Regions from separate parts of the Homo sapiens genome. Here all the other regions are linked to region 1. Evidence: fine-mapped expression QTL. A gene starts in region 1. Each other region holds a variant in brackets. All regions are shown on one strand. Distances are from middle to middle.

Region 1 (6,621 bases):
AAGCCAATGCACCCCCTTAGTTATAACAACCAAAAACATCTCCAGACATTGCCAAATGTCTCCTGGGAGGTAAAATTACTCCTAGTTGTGAACCACTAACGTAAATGAACCTATGTGTCCCAAATAATTACTTAGAAGGAGGAATTCTAAATACTCCCTTTTTTATTTAAAGGAAATGTACTCTGGAGAGAGTTTACAACCTCCATTCTTAAGGAACACTCATGCAAAATGTATGAGATCTCGTAAGTCTTTTTTCTTACCTATTATAAGTTTTGTTAGCCTACTCACAGCTTTCAATGCTACAATTTATTGAGCACCTACTCTGTGAAGGCATAGCATTAGGGACATCCTGTACTCATGTCCACTGACTCATACCCCGGTCGGGCTGTTTGGGCTGTTTTTAGGACAACTTTGCCACCGTAAAAGAACTGCCAACACCTTAAAAGCAACATGTCTTTGTCAATAAAGGGGCCCCATCATTCCAATCAGGTTCCTTTTGACCCTTTTTAGTAACGCCACACATTTCTACGCAACATTTAAATTAAAAAAAAAAAAAAAAAAAAACACTTTTAGAGGGCAGAAGGCCTTTGCTATATTTGGCATAGAAAGGCCATCACTTTTCAAACTCAGGGGGGTTTCTAGGCAGGATCATTACTGGAAACTCTAAGAACACTTATGGACAGTCTCCTTAACTGCCTGACCCATGTGCCCTCCTAACACAATTTGTAATTTTATCATCCTCATAAATTGAAACTCCTAACTGACCTTTTCCAAATAAATGGGTGCCATGGCGAGAGAGAAAGAAAAAGAGATCAGAGGGTATTTTGTAAGGCTCACAAATCGATTTCGGCTCATGAATAGATGCCTGGAACATGCTCCACACCCCCCCCACCCCCAAAGACAAGCACAGATGGAGAAGATGGGTGTGTGTGAGCTGCTTATCTCCCCCCACCTCTCAACACACATACACACGCGGGAAAGAAAAACCTGCAAATCTGAAATCCAAAATGGCCAAAGTGACTTCAAAGTTTTCAAGACATGTCCTGAAAAGGCTCGTTGGGCGGCTGCACCCCTAAGTAAATAAAGCCATAACTTGTCTCCTTCCCCAGCGCCGGGCTCCCAGGCTGACAGTGGCTGCACAAAACCCCTCCTGTGCCGAGCAGCGGAAACTCCTAATGAGATTAGTTGGTGTGTGTGCAGACATTACTTAGCAATGACTAAGGGGGCTCTCTCTTCCTGCAGCAGCCAGTGGAAAATTCAAGGAACTTTTTCCCCCTGCAGCAGCAGAATCCCTTTAACCCTCTCCGCAGCCAACTCCAAAAACAACTCAGCCTCCCCTTTCCCCGCCACCCCCAGGCTGGAGGACTGGGGTGGGGGTAGTTAAAGACCGGCCAGGGGCTTTCAAATGAGGGAGGGTGGGAGGGGGCTGGCGGGGAAGGGGCGGGGGACCCCTCGAACACTACAAAGGAAACTGTAAAAGGCACAAATACATAAACCTAAGAAGGAGCAAACCACAGTTTCTTTGTGAGCTCCTCTAGTGAGTCATTTTCAAGATGCTGTCTGCTGCCAGTTTCAAAGCGGAAGCGCATGGCAATTAGTCTTGCCGTTTCCAGACAAGCCAGAAACTCTCCCGACACTCGTTTTTTTTTCTTTCTAAAAAGCCCCTTTTGCAGTTTCTGAAATAACATTTCTTGCTTCCACCTCCACCCGCCGCCTAACTGCAGCTTGTCCCTAGGATGATTCGGTTCAGAAAAGATAACAAAACCAAGACCTTTTATTTTTGCTTTTTAACTACTCCAAAATCTTAATCCCGCCTCCCCAAAAGTTACAGTAGCGTCACAGGCCAACGTTGAGTTCGAAGGTAAACAGGGATGGGGAGTGGAAGGGGCCCCAAGATCATTTCTTGCCTGGTCCTTCTCCAAAACCATGCCCAATAGAGACCACCGGCTTTTAAATGTCCGATGGGGCGTGCGCCTGGGGCGGTGACCTGGGCGGGGGTCACCTGCCAAGCGAGAGTGGACGCAGCCCCCAGCCCCACACCTTCGCGACCCATGTCCTCCACCGCCCTCTCCATCCCTGTCTTCCTCCCTGGATCCGAGCACCAGTGCACTTTGCCCACTCGAGGGGAGCCTGACTGCGGTCCCAGCTGGAAGGTCGGCGGTGGTCCAGCCTCCAGGCACTCAGCCTGCTCCTGCCACGGTTCTTCCCAGGGACCCGAAGTCTCGCCGTCCCCCGCTCCCCGCGCTGCCTGCAGCGGGGCCCTGGGCGAGCTCCCAGGGTTGCACGCCCGGCGCCCCTTCCTCTGGGGTCGCAGCGCAGCCCCAGGGAGGGGAGCCGCGGGCGCAGGGTCCCCGCAGCCCCGGGCCCGGCGCGAGCTCGGGCGACGGCGGTGGCAGCGACGCGGGCGCAGGAGCATCCGCGGCGCCCCCTCCCCGCGGCCGGCCCTCCCGCGCGGACGCACCGCCACCCCCACCCCGGCCCGCAGCCCACCCCGCGGCGCCCCCCGCCCCACCCCCACCGCGCCCAAGAAAAGAAAGAAAAAAAGAAAACACCCCCAAACAAACTTTTTAAGTGTCCGAGCAACAGGCAGAAGCCCTGTTACCTACCCAGATGTGGGGGAGTCTTCTTCGGGGGGAATTTCTAGGAGGACCCGGGCGAAAGCCCCCGACTTTCCATGCTGACAGGCGTCTGCAGACGGTCTGTGGCTCTTGTAATGAGATCCTGATTTTTCCCCCTTTTTTTCTTTCTCTCGCTCCTCTTTTTTTTTCCCCTCTGGTGTGTGTGAGAGCAGGAAGTTGGAGCAGTCAGGCCGAGCCGGCTCACTTCCTTTACTGCATTATTCCCCAGGCGGTGTGCAGTCTGTGTAAACAGGCTTTTCCGCCCCGCGCCGCGCGCCCCGGCCGCGGCTGTGCGCCGGGGCTGGCCGCCCAGGCCCGCGCCTCCCCCGCCGCCCCGGCCCCGTGCGCGCCCCGCACCGCCCCCACCCGCCCCGCTTCCTGCGCGGCCACCCCGGGGAGGAGCCTCCGACCCGCGGCGACTCCGCGCGGCCGCAGCCCCTCCCCACGGGGAGGGGGGTCCGCCCGCAACCCGCAGAAGCCGCCGCGCTTCCCGGGACACCGGGGATCCCTCCTCACCTCAACCCCTGGGGGTCGAGCGCGCGGGGCACCACGACGGGGTCGTGCCCTGCGCAGTTGGCCCGGGAGGGGGGTCCCGAGGTGGGGAGGCGGCTGGACTCGCTGTTTCCCATCCGCTGGGATGGAAGAGTTGGGGGGCAGAGGGGAATCGAGAGTGGGGTTCAGGGTTTGGTTGCTCTGGGCAAAGGACTGCTTTTCTTGTGGGTGCGGGCACAGTTTCCGTCTGGGGTTGGAGATGGACACCGTTCCTGTCTGGGTTTTCGGTGTTTTAAAAGCCAGCCCTCGGCCGGGCGTGCTGGCTCACGCCTGTAATCTGAGCACTTTGGGAGGCCAAGGCGGATGGATCACCTAAGGTCAGGAGTTCGAGACCAGCCTGGCCAACACGGCGAATCCCCGTCTGTACTAAAAATACCAAAACAACAACAACAAAAACAGCCAGGTGTGGTGGTGGGTCCCTATAATCCCAGCTACTTGGCAGGCTGAGGCGAGAGAATCGCTTGAACCTGGGAGGCAGAGGTTGCAGTGAGCTGAGATCGCCCCATTGCACTCCAACCTGGGCAACCAGCGAAACTCCGTCTCAAAAAAATAAAAAAGCCAGCCCTCAGTTGGGGGGCGAGCCTGTGGGGAAAGGATAAGGAGCCACAACACTGGAAGTCATGGAAATAATGCCCGCAGGGTCAGAGACTGAGGCTTGAAGGGAGCCTCTGTGGTCTCAGAACTGGTCTTCACACCTCCACATCCCTCAAGGAGGTCCTGCCTCTGAGGGCTCAGGCCAGGCTCTGATGGGAGAGCCTGCCCATTGCCCTAGGCTGAGACAAGGTTGGGGGGGATGGCTGTTGAAGAGCCTCTCCCTTCCCAGGCCTGCGCCCCAACCTCACTGCTCACCTTCCAGAACCTTCCATTCCCATGCCGCCACTTAGCAGCCCAGACCCCTGGTTTTCAAACTTGACCCAAGGGGCTTGTTAAACCACTAGTGGCTGGGCCTCTCCTGGAGTCCCAGATTCAGTAGGTCGGGGGTGGTTCCGGGCCCCGGCTAATGTCAGAATCACCTGGGGAGTGTTTTGACACTCTCCAACAATATACTCAACCCAGGCCAATTAAGTCAGATTCTCTGGGGGCCGGGTGTGAGTCCTTTCAAAAGGACCACATTCTAAGAGTTCCTCCACTACGTTTGTTTCTAGTTTTGCAGTCTCTCCTGAAAGATTATTTTGTTTACAAATTTCTCACTGCCATCAACTGTGAGCTGCTAAAGGGCACGGGGTATGTTTTACTGATTAGTACCACATCCCAGCTCCAAGTGCCTATCAGAGCACACAGGTGATAGGAATTTCCTTCGGGCATTTGCTTCAGGGCTCCTGTGGGTAGTCCACTGGAAAGGGTGGGAGAATGCCCTCCAGACCTCTGAGAAGGAGTGGGAAACCCGTGGGGTGTAGGGTGGGGGCACGGTAGGAGAGTGGGGCAGAAGGAGAAGATATGGAAAAGAGGGCTGCTTATCAACCCCTGATTTCCCACAGCTAATTTTCCAATTAGGGTATTATTGTTTTAATCCCCAGTCATCTTCTTCTGTCACTCAGTAGAACACCTATGGTGTCCCTATATGATCCAGCTGTTGGACTGAGAGAATGTAAACTTATTATCCTCAGGGAAAAAAAAAAAATCCACACAGTTAAGAACTCATGTTGCTTTGCTTTAGGAGATATATGCCTGAAAGAAACCGGTCTGAAAAGGCTATGTTCTGTATGATTCCAAACTATATGACATTTTGTAAAAGGCACTATGGAGATAGTACAAAAGATCAGTGGTTGTCAGGGGTTAGCAGGGAGGGAGGGGTGGACAGGAGGAGCACAGAGGGCAAGGAAACTACTACTCGGTATGATACTATAATGGTGGACACATTTGTTAAGACCCACAGAATATACAACACCAAGAATGAACTCTAATGTAAACCATGGACTTTGGGTGATAGTGATGTGTCAATGTAGATTCAATTACAACAAAGGTACCACTCTGGTGGGGGATGTTGATGATTGGGGAAGCTGTACACGTGTCAGGGCAGGAGGTATATGGGAAACCGCTGTGCCTCCTTCTCAGTTTTGCTGTGAGTCTAAAATCACTTTAGGGTTGGGCATAGTGGCTCACGCCTGTAATCCCAACACTTTGGGAGGCCGAGGTGGATGGATCACCTGAGGTCAGAAGTTCGAGACCAGCCTGGTCAACATGGTGAACCCCCATCTCTACTAATAATACAAAACTTAGCCAGGTATGGTGGCAGATGCCTGTAATTCCAGCTACTCAGGAGGCTGAGGCACGAGAATTGCTTGAACCTGGGATGTGGAGTTTGCAGTGAGCCAAGATCAAGCCACTGCACTCCAGCCTGGGTGACAGAGTGAAATTGTGTCTCAAAAAAATTTAAAAAAATAAATCACTTAAAAAAAATAGTGAAAAATAGTCTAGGGGCCAGGTGTGGTGATACTACTCTCACCTATAATACCAGCTACTCAGGAGGCCAAGGCAGGAGGATCGCTTGAGCCCAAGAGTTCACACTCCAGCCTGGGCAACAAAGTGAGACCCTGTTTCTTTTTCTCTTTTTTTTTTTTTTTTTTTTTTGAGACAGAATCTCACTCTGTCACCCAGGCTGGAGCACAATGGTGCGATCTCTGCTCACTGCAACCTCCACCTCCCGGGTTCAAGCAATTCTCCTGCCTCAGCCTCCTGAGTAGCTCGGATTACAGACACGCACCACCATGCCTGGCTAATTTTTGTATTTTTAGTAGAGACGGGGTTTCACCATGTTGGTCAGGCTGGTCTCGAACCCCTGACCTCGTGATCTGCCCACCTCGGCCTCCCAAAGTGCTGGGATTACATGTGTGAGCCAGCGCACCTGTTCAACCCTGTTTCTTAAAAAAATAAAAAATACATACACAAACATATGAAGTATATGAAGTCTGTTTTTTAAAAAAAGTATATTCAAAGCCAAACATTTTAATTCAGTGATTTTTATGCTTTTATTTTTGCACAATAAATCTTTGTAGAATCCTAACATGTAAGGGAGCATGTTTTTGTCAACCAGTTTTATTGTTTTGAAGAAATACCTCATCTAAAACACTTCTGACACACTTTTGGGCAGCTTTAGGGTTTCCCAGCCCATATGAAATCCTGATAAGTTTCTCTGGTATTTTGGATTGTCCACACGACTACTCTCAGCTCCTCACATGCATGGGTGATTCAGAGCTGACTCTGGTCTTCCTCAAAGCACAGGGCATAGCTTTTATTTTCAGGTGTCGGCAGCTTCTGTTCTTTGCATTCTAAGAGAAAGCTGCTATTTGTTTTCCATGCTTTCCTTCCCACTATCAAAAAGCAGCCAAGGCCAGGGGAGGTGGCTCATGCCTATAATCCCAGCATTTTGGGAGGCCGCAGCAGGCGAATCACTTGAACCCAGGAGTTCAAGACCCGCCTGGGCAACATGGCGAAACTCCATCTCTCTACA
Region 2 (6,621 bases), 35 kb before region 1:
CTCACCACAGAGTTCCAACCCTTTAGCATGATATACTCCACACTCCATTCCCCACTCACTTTTCCAACCACATCTTGCCCTCACTCCCAAGATACTCTGTGCTTGAAAGGTCAAACTCATCCACACGTCCCTGCCTTTACTCACACTGTTCCCTTCTTGGTATATCCCTTCTAACTTTTTTCAGCCGGGTAAACTCATTCTCATTCCTTAAGATCCAGATCAAGTGTCTTGACCTCCGGAGGCCTTCCCTCTGCCTCTACATCCCTCCCTGCTCTCCCAGAAGACCCCAGCATTGGCCATGCCAGCACTTTACACGGGGTTCTCTACTAAAATTGGTTTCATGTCTGTCTCCCCAACCAGCTGCTGAGCCCCTCAGGAGGAAGGAGGTATGTTTCCAAAGGGATGGCTGGATGGCTGAGGAAAAGGCAGAGGTGAAAGAAGAGGCCGTGTCAACTGGAGGTGGATGTATAATTAAAAACCCTAGGCCAGGTGCTGTGGCTCATGCCTGCAATCCCAGCGCTTTGGGAGGCCGAGGCGAGCAGATCACCTGAGGTCAGGAGTTCGAGACTAGTCTGGTGAAATCCCATCTCTACTAAAAATACAAAACCTAGCTGGGAATGGTGGGACGCACCTGTAATCCCAGCTACTCGGGAGGCTGAGGCAGGAGAATCACTTGAACCTGGGAGGCAGAGGTTGCAGTGAGCTGAGATCGCGCCACTGCACTCCAGTCTGGCCAACAGGAGTGAAACTGTGTCTCCAAAAAAAAGCCTTATTCAAGAAGTGGTGAATGCTGTGAATCCCAGCAGGAATTCCTGCCCCTCAGGCTTGACCCATAAGGTGCCTGGCAGTTGTCAGGGCCAGTGACAGAAATGCTCTGGGCATGGGCCCCGCTCTTCTCTACTCTAAGATGAAGGGTCCATCTGTCTGATGTTAAGGAGTGAAAGACTTGTTAGCTTGTTAATAAATAAAATCTCTGAAAAAGATCCTTACTGTTACATCAGGTTATAAAACTACCTTCTGGAAGACTCAGTTTAAACCTAAGGAAAAAAAAACTTATCCAAAAATTCACACCATCAGAACTACAGTAACAAACCTATCTCCTAGGGCTTAAAACAAGACCAAGGGAAAAAGCTGTTTGACAGAGAGGAAGTGTAAAATGCCCAGGCCTCAGTTAAATGTCCTGTTTAGGCCTCTACGGACTCTGGTTTCTGCCCCTCACGGGCTCAGCCACAGGCACCTCCCATGACCTGTGTGTTTCTCAAATCAACAGGGGCCTTTCATCCATACCCGGGTTGCAAAACATGCCGCTCCCTGGATGGGGCATCACTCCTTTCTTGGAATTATAATTGGGTTTGCCCCGCAGCCTCTACAAAAGCTTAACTGGGGAAAGCAGTTCCCTGGTGGAGCTCGGATGCGGAACCCTGGCCCTCCAGACTTTCCCCACACCTGCGTCACGTGCACTCCGCACAACTGTAGATGCAGGAAGGAGCCTCTGAGCACAGTGATCAGAGCCTCCGATCCCAGCACTGCCAATCCGGGATTGGCGCCCCCAGGGTCGCCTTTTCTTCCCATTTAAGTCATCTATTAAAATCATGTGCACTTCGAGACCAGGGAGCTGCTCAATTCCCAGCAACTCTGAATCCCTCCAAGGCAGGACTCCTCTTGGGTGGACCTGTCTCCACCCTGGGGACTTGGCTCAGCGATGTGTCTTTGATTCTAGTGTCACACCTGTCACGGAGTCTAGTGTTTATACCTGCTGCAGAATCTAGGTGCTGTGCCTGTCATGGGGAGCAGTTTCCTTTTAGGATTTGCTGAATCGAACCATCACTTATAGAGGGAAACCAACACTCTCCTTTTAAGTATAATTTTAAAAATCTAAACAAAAAGCCCAGCAGTGTCTGAAATACAGTCATGCATCACTTAACGATGAGGCTACGTTCTGAGAAATGTGTCGCTGGGGAATTTCGTTGTTGTGCGAGCATCATAGCATGTACTTGCACAAACCTGGAGGGTCTAGCCTATCACACACCAAGGCTATGCTATATGCTCTCAGGCTACAAACCTGTACAGCACGTTACTGTACTGAATACTGTATGTAGGCAACTGCAATATAATAGTAAGTATGTATGTATCTCAACGTATCTAAACGTACAAAAGGTACAGTAAAAATATGGAATTATAGTCTTATGGGACCGCTGTTATATACGTGGCCCACTGTGGACCAGAACATTATGTGGTACATGACTGTATATGGAGGTGTTACAGAGTGAATTTTGTCCTTCCCCAAACTATGCTGATGTCCTAATCCCCAATACCTGTGACTAGGACCTTATTTAGAAAGGGGTCTTTACAGACGTAACCAAGTTAAGATGAGGTCATAATGCATTAAGGTGGGCCCTAATCCAATGACCGGTATCCTCATAAGAAGAGGAAAATCGGCCAGGCACGGTGGCTCACACCTGTAATCCCAGCACTTTGGGAGGATGAGGCAGGCAGATCACAAGGTCAGGAGTTCAAAACCAGCCTGGCCAACATATTGAAACCCCATCTCTACTAAAAACACAAAAATTCGCCAGGTGTGGTGGCACATGCCTGTAGTCCCAGCTACTCAGGAGGCTGAGGCAGGAGACTCCCTTGAATCTGGGAGGCAGAGTTTGCAGTGAGCTGAGACCATGCCATTGCACTCCAGCCTGGGCGACAGAGCAAGACTCTGTCTCAAAAAAAAAAAAAAAAAAAAAAAAAAGGAAAATCTGGACACACAGAATGGGGAGAACGTCATGTGATGATGGGGGCAGCGATCCGAGTGAGGCTGCTGCAAGCCAAGGCACGCCAGGGACTGCTGGCAAGCCCGGGGCTGGGGAGAGGCCAAGAAAGAGTCCACCTGAGTCAGAGGGAGCACAGCTCTGCTGACACCCTGGCTCTGGACATCTGGCCTCCAGAACTGTGAGACAACACATTTCTGTTGTTTTAAGCCACCTACAGTTTGTGGTCATCTGACCTGGCAGCCCTAGGAAACTACGGGACAATAAACAAAAAGCAGTGACTACTTTTATTTTTTAGTTTATCACTCATTAATATCAACTTTCATGACATAAATGGTGTGCACTTGAGTAGTGGACACATCAGTGTTTTATCCATTTGTTCACTCGTCTAGCATTTACTAAGCAACTAATACATGCCAGACCCTGTCCGAGGTACCAGAGCGACAAAAGTGGTGCATCCAGAAGGCCACGATGAAGTCAGCTATATACAGACAGCTACGACATAATACAGTCAGTTTTATAAATACACATAACTGGAATGAGGAGCCTTCACTGAGTAGGTGCCTGACACTGTGCTAAGCACCTTATCCGCGTCATCTTATCTTCTCTTTCCATCCTCACACAGTCCGACAAGGAAGGGTGCTGTTCCCATCACCACTTTCCAATGGGTGAACTGAGACGCTGAGGTTGAGGGACAGCTGGACTCTTAACCTCGAGGGCTCTGGATACAAAGCTCCCACCAGTCACTAAGACAGTCCAGAAGGTGGAGACTGGCTCCAACTGCAGGTGCTCAGAGAAGTGCCAGAGCTTTGATTCAGAGCGGTGAGGGAGAGTCATTTAAATAAGAA[A/G]GCATCTTCACAGCTGAATTTTCAGAACAGATTAAATATATGAAAATAAGCAACTGAGGAAAGAAACTGTTGTCATCTGTCTTCAGTCATTAAAAAGCACGACAAAGTGCTCCTGATAGGTCCTAAGTGAAAAGGGCCATAATACTCAGATCCGGCGTTTCCCTATCTCCATGTGCCTGAGCAGCAACGTAGCAACAAAGGTTTTGATCTTCTTTTTTTTTTTTTTTTTTTTTTTTTTTTGACACAGAGTCTCACTCTGTCGCCAGGCTGGAGTGCAGTGGCGCAATCTCGGCTCACTGCAACCTCTGCCTCCCGGGTTCAAGCGATTCTCCTGCCTCAGCCTCTGGAGTAACTGGGACCACAGGTGTGCACCACCACGCCCAGCTAATTTTTGTATTTTTAGTAGAGACGGGGTTTCACCATGTTGGCCAGGCTGGTCTTGATCTCTTGACCTCATGATCCACCCACCTTGGCCTCCCAAAGTGCTGGGATTACAGGCGTGAGCCACCATGCTCGGCCTCTTCTTCTTTTTTTTAATAAATTGTGCTAAATTTTTTAAAAAGAGACAGGGGTCTCACTACGTTGCCCAGGCTGGACTTGAACTCCTGTGCTCAAGTGATCCTCCCAGTTTCTAATTTTCTTCTTTGCACTGTCTGCAATGTTCAAATTAGTGATAGAGAAACTGTCATCTGTATTATTATTCTGACTCATGCTTCATTGTGCCTACCCTGTTTGGGGCCCTGTTCTCAGCCCTGCACACGTGTGAACACAATGAATCCCACCACAGCCCCACAGTGTAGACTCTACTATTATACCCACTTTACAGAAAAGGAAGCTGAGACTCAGAGAGATTAGGCAACACGGCCACAGTCATGGAGCTGGATTCAAACCCAGACGATCTAGGCTGGAGCTCACTCTGTAACTACCTCGTTATTATAATCTGAGAGGGGAGGAAAAGAACACTCTGAGGAGGAGCAATGATCAAAGTGCCTCAGCCCCAACCTGACCGCATGGGCACAGAGATGACCCTCCTCCGGGGCCTTTCTGACCGCATGGGCACAGGGACGACCCTCCTCCGGGGCCTTCCTGACAGCATGGGCACAGGGACGACCCTCCTCCGGGGGGCCTTCTGCAAGTTTGCACACATTTTCCACTTTTTTCTCTGCTAAAAATATAACATATAACATATAAAAATAATGATATTCTCATGCTTGTCTACTCAAGTGGGAAAAATTCCCTATTAGGACAAACCCAGGGATGTGCAGTTGAAGCCAAGAGGGAAGAAATGACAGCTAGCAAAGGACAGAAGAGATGATGGGAAAAAGGACGCAGCTGCCGAGTTCAGCAGCTACCTGATTTCTGCACTGAAAGGCTCTGGATGAATGTTAGTGAGGAAGAGGAGGAGGACACCGAGAAGGAAGAGAACACTAAAAGGCAAACGGTCAGGCCGAGCTGTACGTGACACTGAGAAACGCACGCGGTTCAGGGCAGCTTGAAGTTCAGGGTGGCACACACGGCAGTGGCCCAGGTGGCTTTGCATCCACAAAGACTCTGCTCCAATCTGTCTCTCAAGCAAGAGGCCGAGCCACTTCAGACTGCCATTTCTGTGAGTCGAAAACGGTCACAGACGGGCAATGCACACAGTCAACTTACACCTATCATCACAGAGTGACACTGGCAAAACGGAAGGAAGAAAGAGGTCATCGGAAAATGTCAAATAGAGTGTAGTTTTCGTCATCTCTTTTTGACATGCCTCCTCTTCTTCCTCCTTCTCCATCCCCTCTTTTTTTCCTCTCCCCTCCATTTCCCTCAACCATCTCTTTTCTTCTTATCTTCCTCCCCCTCTCCTTCTTTTCTTTTTAAACTGTATTAAGAGTCTAACTTTCCGTCTTGCTCATCACTTGAGAGCATTTTATAAGCAAGAATTAACCAGCCATGCGTGCACATGTACATGTATGCGTGTGCACATGTCTGTGCATATGGCAGTGGCCACGTGTGCATGTGGATATGTATGTGCAAGTGGGTGTGTGTGCCTGTGTGCATGTGGGCATATGTGTGTGTGCATGTGGACATCTGTGTGTGCATGTGGGCATGGGTGTGCACATGTGGACATCTGTGTGGACATGTGGACATCTGTGTGGGCATGGGTGTGCACATGTGGACATCTCTGTGTGCATGTGGACAGGTGTGTATGTGTATACTTGTGTGTGTGTGTGCATGTGGACAGGTATATCTGTAGAAGGAAAGACATGGAGCAATTTCTTCTGGTGGCCAAAGTCTACATGATACAACAGGATAGGAGGCTGCTCCTGCCCTTACTGCCAGCTCCAGCTTGATGCCTGGGGCTGCTCAAAGGTCATGTGGCCAGCCCCCATGCTCTGCCTGGCAAGAGAGAAAGGGGCAGTGCAGGCAGGCAGGCCACACCAGCCACCTGGACTCCTGACCTTGGGCTCTACCTGATACACATCGTTTGCTGGGATTTTTCAGTACTGAATTTGTTTCTTTCCTTTTTTTTTTCTTTTTAAGAGACAGGATCTCCCTCTATTGCCCAAGCTGGAGTGCAGTGGTGCAATCAGAGCTCACTGCAGTCTCAAACTCCCAGGCTCAAATGATCCTCCCACCTCAGCCTCCCAAGTAGCTGAGACTACAGGCATGCACTTCCACACTCGGCTAATTTTTAATTCTTTGTTGTGACAGGGTCTCACCATGTTGCCCAGGCTGGTCTCAGACTCCTGGACTCAAGTGATCCTCCTGCCTCAGCCTCCCAAAGTGCTGGGATTAGGTGTGAGGCACTATGCCCAGCCTGAGGCTCTTGGTAATAAACAAAACTTCTTAGGTTGTAATACCCTTTGGACAGCCTGACTGCCTACCTGGAACTCAAGACACTCAAAGGCAAAGGAAATGAATGGCCCAGAAGGCAGGGTGTGTGTGTGCCTTTTGGCTGGGAACCTGGGTGGACCAGCTGGGTTCAAATCCGGGCTCTGCTGCTCACTGGCTGTGTGCACCTGGGC
Region 3 (6,621 bases), 120 kb after region 1:
ACTGCAGACTCCACCTCCCGGGTTCAAGCGATTCTCCTGCCTCAGCCTCCTGAGTAGCTAAGATTACAGGTGCACACCACCACGCCCAGCTAATTTTTGTATTTTTAGTAGAGACAGGGTTTCACCATGTTGGTCAGGCAGGTCTCGAACTCTTGACCTCAGGTGATCCACCTGCCTCGGCCTCCCAAAGTGCTGGGATTACAGGTGTGAGCCACTGTGCCCAGCAAGGCTGTCTTCTTATAAAGACACTGGTCATATTGGGCTAGGTGCTCACTCTTCTGCTGTATGACCTCATCTGAACTAATTACATTTGCAATGGCCCTACTTCCAACTATGGTTATGTTCTGAGGTACCAGGGGTTAGGATTTTAACATCTTTTTTGGAGGCTGGGGGAATAACTTGACCCATAACATTGCTCTTATGGAGCTTATAGTCTAGAAAGGAGGCATACATTAAATGCATCATCACACAATTAAAGATGAAAATGTCATTAGTAGTTAAGTGCTCCAACAGTAACAAGAACAACAAGAAATCGTAACAGGTGGACTGGACGTGGTGGCTCGTGTTTGTAATCCCAGCACTTTGGGAGGCCGAGGCAGGTGGATCTCCTGAGCTTGGGAATTCGAGACCAACCTAGGCAATATGGCGATATCCTGAGTCTACAGAAAATACAGAAATTAGCTGGGCATGGTGGAGTGCGTCTGTAGTCCATGCTACTGAGGCTGAGATGAGAGAATCACTTGAGCCCAGGAGGCTGAGGCTGCAGTGAGTCAAGATCGTGCCACTGCTCTCCAGTCTGGGTGACATAGTGAGACTCTATCTCAAAAAAAAAAAAAAAAAAGAAAAGAAAAAAAAGGAAGGCTGGGCGTGGTGGCTCAGGCCTGTAATTCCAACACTTTAGGAATCCAAGGTGGGTGGATCATGAGGTCAGGAGTTTGAGACCACCCTGACCAACATGGTGAAACCTCGTCTCTACTAAAAATACAAAAATTAGCCGGGCGTGGTGGTGCGTGCCTGTAATCCCAGCTACTCAGGAGGCTGAGGCAGGAGAATCTCTTGAACCCGGGAGGCAGAGGTTGCAGTGAGCTGAGTTTGTACCACTACACTCCAGCCTAGGTGACAGAGCGAGACTCCATCTAAAAAAAAAAATCGTAACAGGAGAAGCTAAGCCATGGTTGAAGGGGGTGGTCAGGAAAAGTTTCTCTGAGGAAGGAACATTTAAGCTGAAGCCTGGAGTGTTCCTCGGGGGGAGAGCAACACCGAAGGGGGCCCCAGGCTGAGGAGAAATTTGACAGAGGTATATTAATACATAAGAGACCCTCCAAAAAGGTTCTCAGAAAAGCTGAGAAGAAATAGAGTCTCTCTCTGTCACTTTGGTAATCTTAATGGTCCCAAACAGTTGTGTGCAAGAGGAAAATTCAGTTACTGAGTCTACCAAAGAAGGAAGGCCTGTCTTATTATTAGGTTCTCCTACTACATAAGTGGTTGTTTTGTTTAGTCTTTTTAAGGACCATGTTGAATGAGCCAAATTACATTTATATTCTTATTCCTTTGGGATCTGGACAAGTCTGCCAGATTTCTGGATTAGCAAAAATTGATTCGAGTGTATGATTTCAGTTAGCGGCTGCTGGGATCACTGTGAGTTTTCAGCATGACATTGTTTAGTAAGCAAACCTCTGAAAGTATGCTTTTATATCTATCAGTCCCCTCCCCAAAAAGCCTCCAAAACCCAGCTATTCTAAAGGGAGTTAAGACTTCCTAAAGCAGTAGACAAAGAACTGAGTGTCAGCTCCTTGGTTGAGTTCAAATTGCCTCCGACAGCAACTGGGCTACAGTATGTGGCACACATTTTCAGAGCCAGACGGGGAGAGGGGGTGGGTTGGTTCCCCCTGGAAAGGCTGTGCTGTGGCTGGGTGGGGTGGGAAGTTAGCCTCCCTTTTCAGGGACAATGTGTCCCACCCTATGCCGGATAGTGGCACATCACAGCTCAGCCTCCCAATTTCACCCACTGGCCTCCGTTTCCCATGTCATCTGAGGTCAGAGAGGTCCAAGCCAACAGAGGTGACTCCGCAGCCTTGCAGGAAGCTGAAGCTGTGAGAAGAAGGATATGCTGCTCCATGCACACCCCCGAGGAGCTGTCCACGGACGGGCCAGGGCTGCTTCCGGGCCAGCGTCCAGGTCTGCTGCTGAGGGCCAGGTGGTGTTGGAGTTGGCCGACTCTCCCTCCTCCATCACATTTTCCAGGAAGGGGTGGCTAGGGACCGGTGGTAGGTGGGGATATTGTCAGCAATGAATGTTGGTGTTTTTGACCAAGAGCCAAAGTATTGTGTGTTTCGGGGGTCTGGCAGACTGCCTCCGCCCAGGGAGACATGCATAACGAGCCTGCCGTCCCAGCCTATAGCACAGTTGTTTGAACTTCGCAGGGTAGGATGGGTGTGGGTGTGTGGTTCTCACCATGAGGATCAAGCCCCCCCTCTTTTTTTTTCCCCCCAACTCCTTTACATCTTTAAGTAAATGAAGCAAAGGAACTGACTGGTGGACTTGAGGAGTGGAAAGGGGCTGTTTATTACCATTCTTGCCAGTCATTTCCCAGGGTTAGAAGTCAACAGAGAGTTCTTTTCTTCCTTTCGTCCAGTATTTGAGTTTAAGTCTTAACAGAGGCAAGTGGGCATTAATAATAGTTGTCCAGGCCAGGCGCAGTGGCTTACACCTGTAATGCCAATGCTTTGGGAGGCTGAGGCAGGAGGATCACTTGAGCCCAAGAGTTCAAGATCAGCCTGGACAACATAGCAAGACCCTATCTCTCCAAAAAATTTAAAAATCATGCAGGTGTGGTGGCACGAGTCTGTAGTACCAGCTACTCAGGAGGCTGAGGTGGGAGGATCGCTTGAGCCCAAGAAGTTGAGGCTGCAATGAGCCATCATGTCACCACTGCACTCCAGCCTGGGTGACAGAACAAGACACTGTCTCTAATAATAA[T/CAATAAT]AATAATAATAATAATTTAAAAGTCCAGTTTGGCACCATGGGCATATAATCTGGCCTTGTTGGGTTCCCGTTTATAAAAGATCTCCCTGCTGTGGGCTGACTCCTTCCTCACATAGCCCTCCTTGGCCTGAGAAAACCCAGGAGAACAAAGGTGGGAGGAAATGTCAAAATCCAGAAGGGCCAACTTCTGAGCAACTCCGGGAAGTTTTCTCCCAGAACCAGGTCCTGCCCGCAGAGAGCTCTTCCTAAGGAACCGGGTTGCTGAGGAGTGGGTGGAGCTCAGCACCTTTCACACTCCATTGGATCACAGCCTGTTTCCATTAGGAAGGTTGGATGCTGCAGCCCGTTTCCCACCTGGTGTAAATTGCAGGGGCTACCGCTGCCACCAGCAGGGTATCAGCAAATAAAACCAGGCCTGAGGCCATTTGTTACAAACTTGAGGCTTGTGGTATTTGAAGCTGCACAGTCATTTGGGAAACTGAGTATTCCACAGAGGAAAAGGCTGGTGGGGCGGTGCATGTCCCAGAGGACACAAAGTGTTCTCCAAACCCACAAAGTCTGAAAATCCATCAGTAGAAATTTCTAAAATTTCAGAGATGCCAGATTTGGCTAATCAAAATTCAGGGTGTTCCATTAAGTTTGAATTTAAAATAAAGGAGGAACACTTTTTTTTTTAAGGATAACTATGTCCCAAACATTGCATTGGAGGACATACTTATGCTTACAAAGTATTTGTTCTTCCTTGTATGATGTTGGTGAGAATGTAAATTAGTATAGCCACTATGGAAATGAGTATGGAGGTGTCTCAAAAAATTAAAAATGGAACTGGCATATTGCTATGGTTTGAATATGTCCCCTCCAAAATTCATGTTGAAACTTCATCCCCATGGTGGTGATATCAAGAGGTGGGACCATTTGGGGAGTGATTAAGTCATGAGGGCCCCACCTTCATGGATGAGATTCAGGCCATTATAAAAGGGCTTGAGGGGGAGGCTTTACTCTCATCTTCCTTCTGCCACAAGGACACAGCAACAAGACGTGATTGTGGAAGCAGAGAGCAGTCCTCATCAGATACCAAATGCTGGAGCCTTGATCTTGGACTTCTGAGCTTCTTCAACTGTGAGAAAATACATTTCTGGCCAGGAGCGGTGGCTCACGCCTGTAATCCCAGCACCTTGGGAGTCTGAGGCAGGTGGATCACGAGGTCAGGAGATCGAGACCATTCTGGCTAACACAGTGAAACCCCGTCTCCACTAAAAAAAAAAAAAAAAAAAAAAAAAAAAAATTAGCTGGGCGTGGTGGCGGGCGCCTGTAGTCCTAGCTACTCAGGAGGCTGAGGCAGGAGAATGGCATGAACCCGGGACGTGGAGCTTGCAGTGAGCAGAGATTGCACCACTGCACTCCAGCCTGGGCGACTGAGCGAGACTCCATCTCAAAAAAAAAAAAAAAAGAAAAAGAAAGAAAAGAAAGAGAAAATACATTTCTGTTCTTAATCAATTACCCAGTGTCAGGTATTTTGTGGTAGCAGGACAAATGGATGAAGGCACGTGCAATCCAGCTACCCACTACTGATTGTATATCCAAAGGAAATGAAGTCAGTATGTCAAAGAGATATCTGTGTCTCATGTTCATTGCAGCATTATTCACAGTAACCAAGATATGGAATTAAAGTAAGTGTCCATCATGGATGTATGGATAAAGAAAATGTATATATACAATGGAATACTATTCAGCCTTAAAATAAAAAGAGGAAAATTATGTCACTTGTGACAACACGAATGAACCTGGAGGACATTGTGCTAAGTAAAATAAGCCAGGCACAGCAAGACCAAAACCACGTGATCTCACTTCTGTGTGGAATCTAAAACAGCCCAACTCATTAAAACAGAGTTGAATGGTGGTTACCAAAGAATGGGTTTGGGGAGATGTTGGCCAAAGGATACAAAATTTGAGTTCAATAAAAGGAATAAGTCCAAGAGATCTATTGTACAAACAATGACTATAATTGATAACAATATATTATATACTTAAAAATCACTAAGAGAATAGATTTTCAGTGTTCTCACCACAAAAAAAAGTATGTGAGGTAATGTATATGTTATCTCAATTTATCCTTTCCACAATGTATACATATTTCAAAATATCAAGTTGTACACCATAAATATATACATTTTTACTGGTCAATTACAATTTATTTTCAAAAGTACTTGTTCTTTATCTAAAACTTACATTTAACAAAGCATCATCTATTTTCTCTGACTACCCCACCCCAGGTACAGAATGCCTCCGGAAGTTTCTTTATCTTTTCTTTTTTTTTTTTTTTTGAGACAGAGTCTCGCTCTGTCACCAGGCTGGAGTGACTTGATCTTAGCTCACTGCAACCTCTGCCTCCCGGGTTCAAGGAATTCTCCTGCCTCAGCCTCCCGAGTAGCTGGGACTACAGGCGCGCACCATTACACCCAGCTAATTTTTTTTGTATTTTTAGTAGACATGGGGTTTCACTGTGTTGGCCAGGATGGTCTCGATCTCTTGACCTCGTGATCTGCCTGCCTCAGCCTCCCAAAGTGCTGGGATTACAGGCGTGAGCCATCGTGCCTTGCCTGCCTCCAGAAGTTTCTACTGAAGGCAGAGGTGAAAGGAAACCCGCTGTGAATGCTGACGTCTTATTCACTAGTCTTTGAACTCTTCTAGGGGCTGGCTGCCAGACTCAAAGCATTGTTTGCTTATGGGATGAACGTCTTAATGCAGGGAAACTGAATGGCCAGTTGTCATCAACCCAACCAAAGGGACTCCGCAAAAAAAGTAATGTTGTTGTTCTGTAATAGGTAAATGTCAGATAGTTCTATTCTCAATGGCAAGCTGATGAAGCCCACCCCAGTCCACACACTTTCTCTCCTGTTCAGAATCTGTTGCTAGGTGGGTGGCTCGGGCTGTTCTTCCTCTCCCTTCCTTGTTGCCCTCTCAGCCTCTGCAATGGGGCTGTGAGGAGACCAAACCCCATCAGCTCCTCCTTGGTATTTCCTCATTCCACCATTCAGAGCATTTCCCTGAACCTGTTTGCTGAGCATCTGGGCAAATATTTGGTGGGGAAAGTGATTTAATTTTTTTAATTGAGGTGAAATTCACATAACATAAAATTAACCTTATTTTTTTTTTTTCTGAGACAGAGTCTCACTCACTCTGTTGCCCAGGCTGGAGTGCAGTGGTGCAATCTCAGCTCACTGCCTCCTGGTTTCCAGTGATTCTCCTGCCTCAGCCTCCCGAGTAGCTGGGATTACAGGCACGTGCCACCATGCCAGGCTAATTTTTGTATTTTTAGTAGACATGGGGTTTCACCATGTTGGCCAGTCTGGTCTTGAACTCCTGACCTCAAGCAATCTGCCCGCCTTGGCTTCCCAAAGTGCTAGGATTACAGGCGTGAGCCACCGTGCCTGGCCAAATTAACCATTTTAAAGTGTACAATTCAGTGGCATTTGGTACATTCACAGTATTGTGCAACTTCCACCTCTATGTGGTTACAAAGCATTTTCTTCGCCCCTAGAGAAAACCCTGTACCCATGAAGCAGTTGGCTGTCAGCAATTTAAATTTAATTTTAAATTTTCACATTTTTAATTAAGCAAATTTAATTTCAAATTTGTCTC

The links.
Region 2: its variant is fine-mapped to the expression of ELK3 in whole blood (INTERVAL, PIP above 0.99).
Region 3: its variant is fine-mapped to the expression of ELK3 in whole blood (INTERVAL, PIP 0.97).

Annotation. Positions count from the first base shown.
Region 1 is chr12:96,190,691-96,197,311 of GRCh38, reverse strand. It overlaps ELK3 (ETS transcription factor ELK3), which reads right to left and starts at 2,937. Exons shown (of 5, transcript NM_005230.4): 1 at 2,607-2,937. RefSeq lists an enhancer at 1,562-1,641 and a silencer at 2,973-3,112.
Region 2 is chr12:96,225,646-96,232,266 of GRCh38, reverse strand. The region is part of intron 2 of ELK3 (ETS transcription factor ELK3); the gene reads right to left. It overlaps LOC124902991 (a long non-coding RNA gene), which reads left to right. Exons shown (of 2, transcript XR_007063414.1): 2 at 1-983. Among named protein-coding and RNA genes, the nearest start is that of ELK3, 35 kb to the right of the region's middle. The variant A/G (reference allele first, on the strand shown) is at 3,611.
Region 3 is chr12:96,073,957-96,080,577 of GRCh38, reverse strand. No RefSeq gene overlaps it. Among named protein-coding and RNA genes, the nearest start is that of TRD-GTC2-8, 41 kb to the right of the region's middle. The variant T/CAATAAT (reference allele first, on the strand shown) is at 2,980.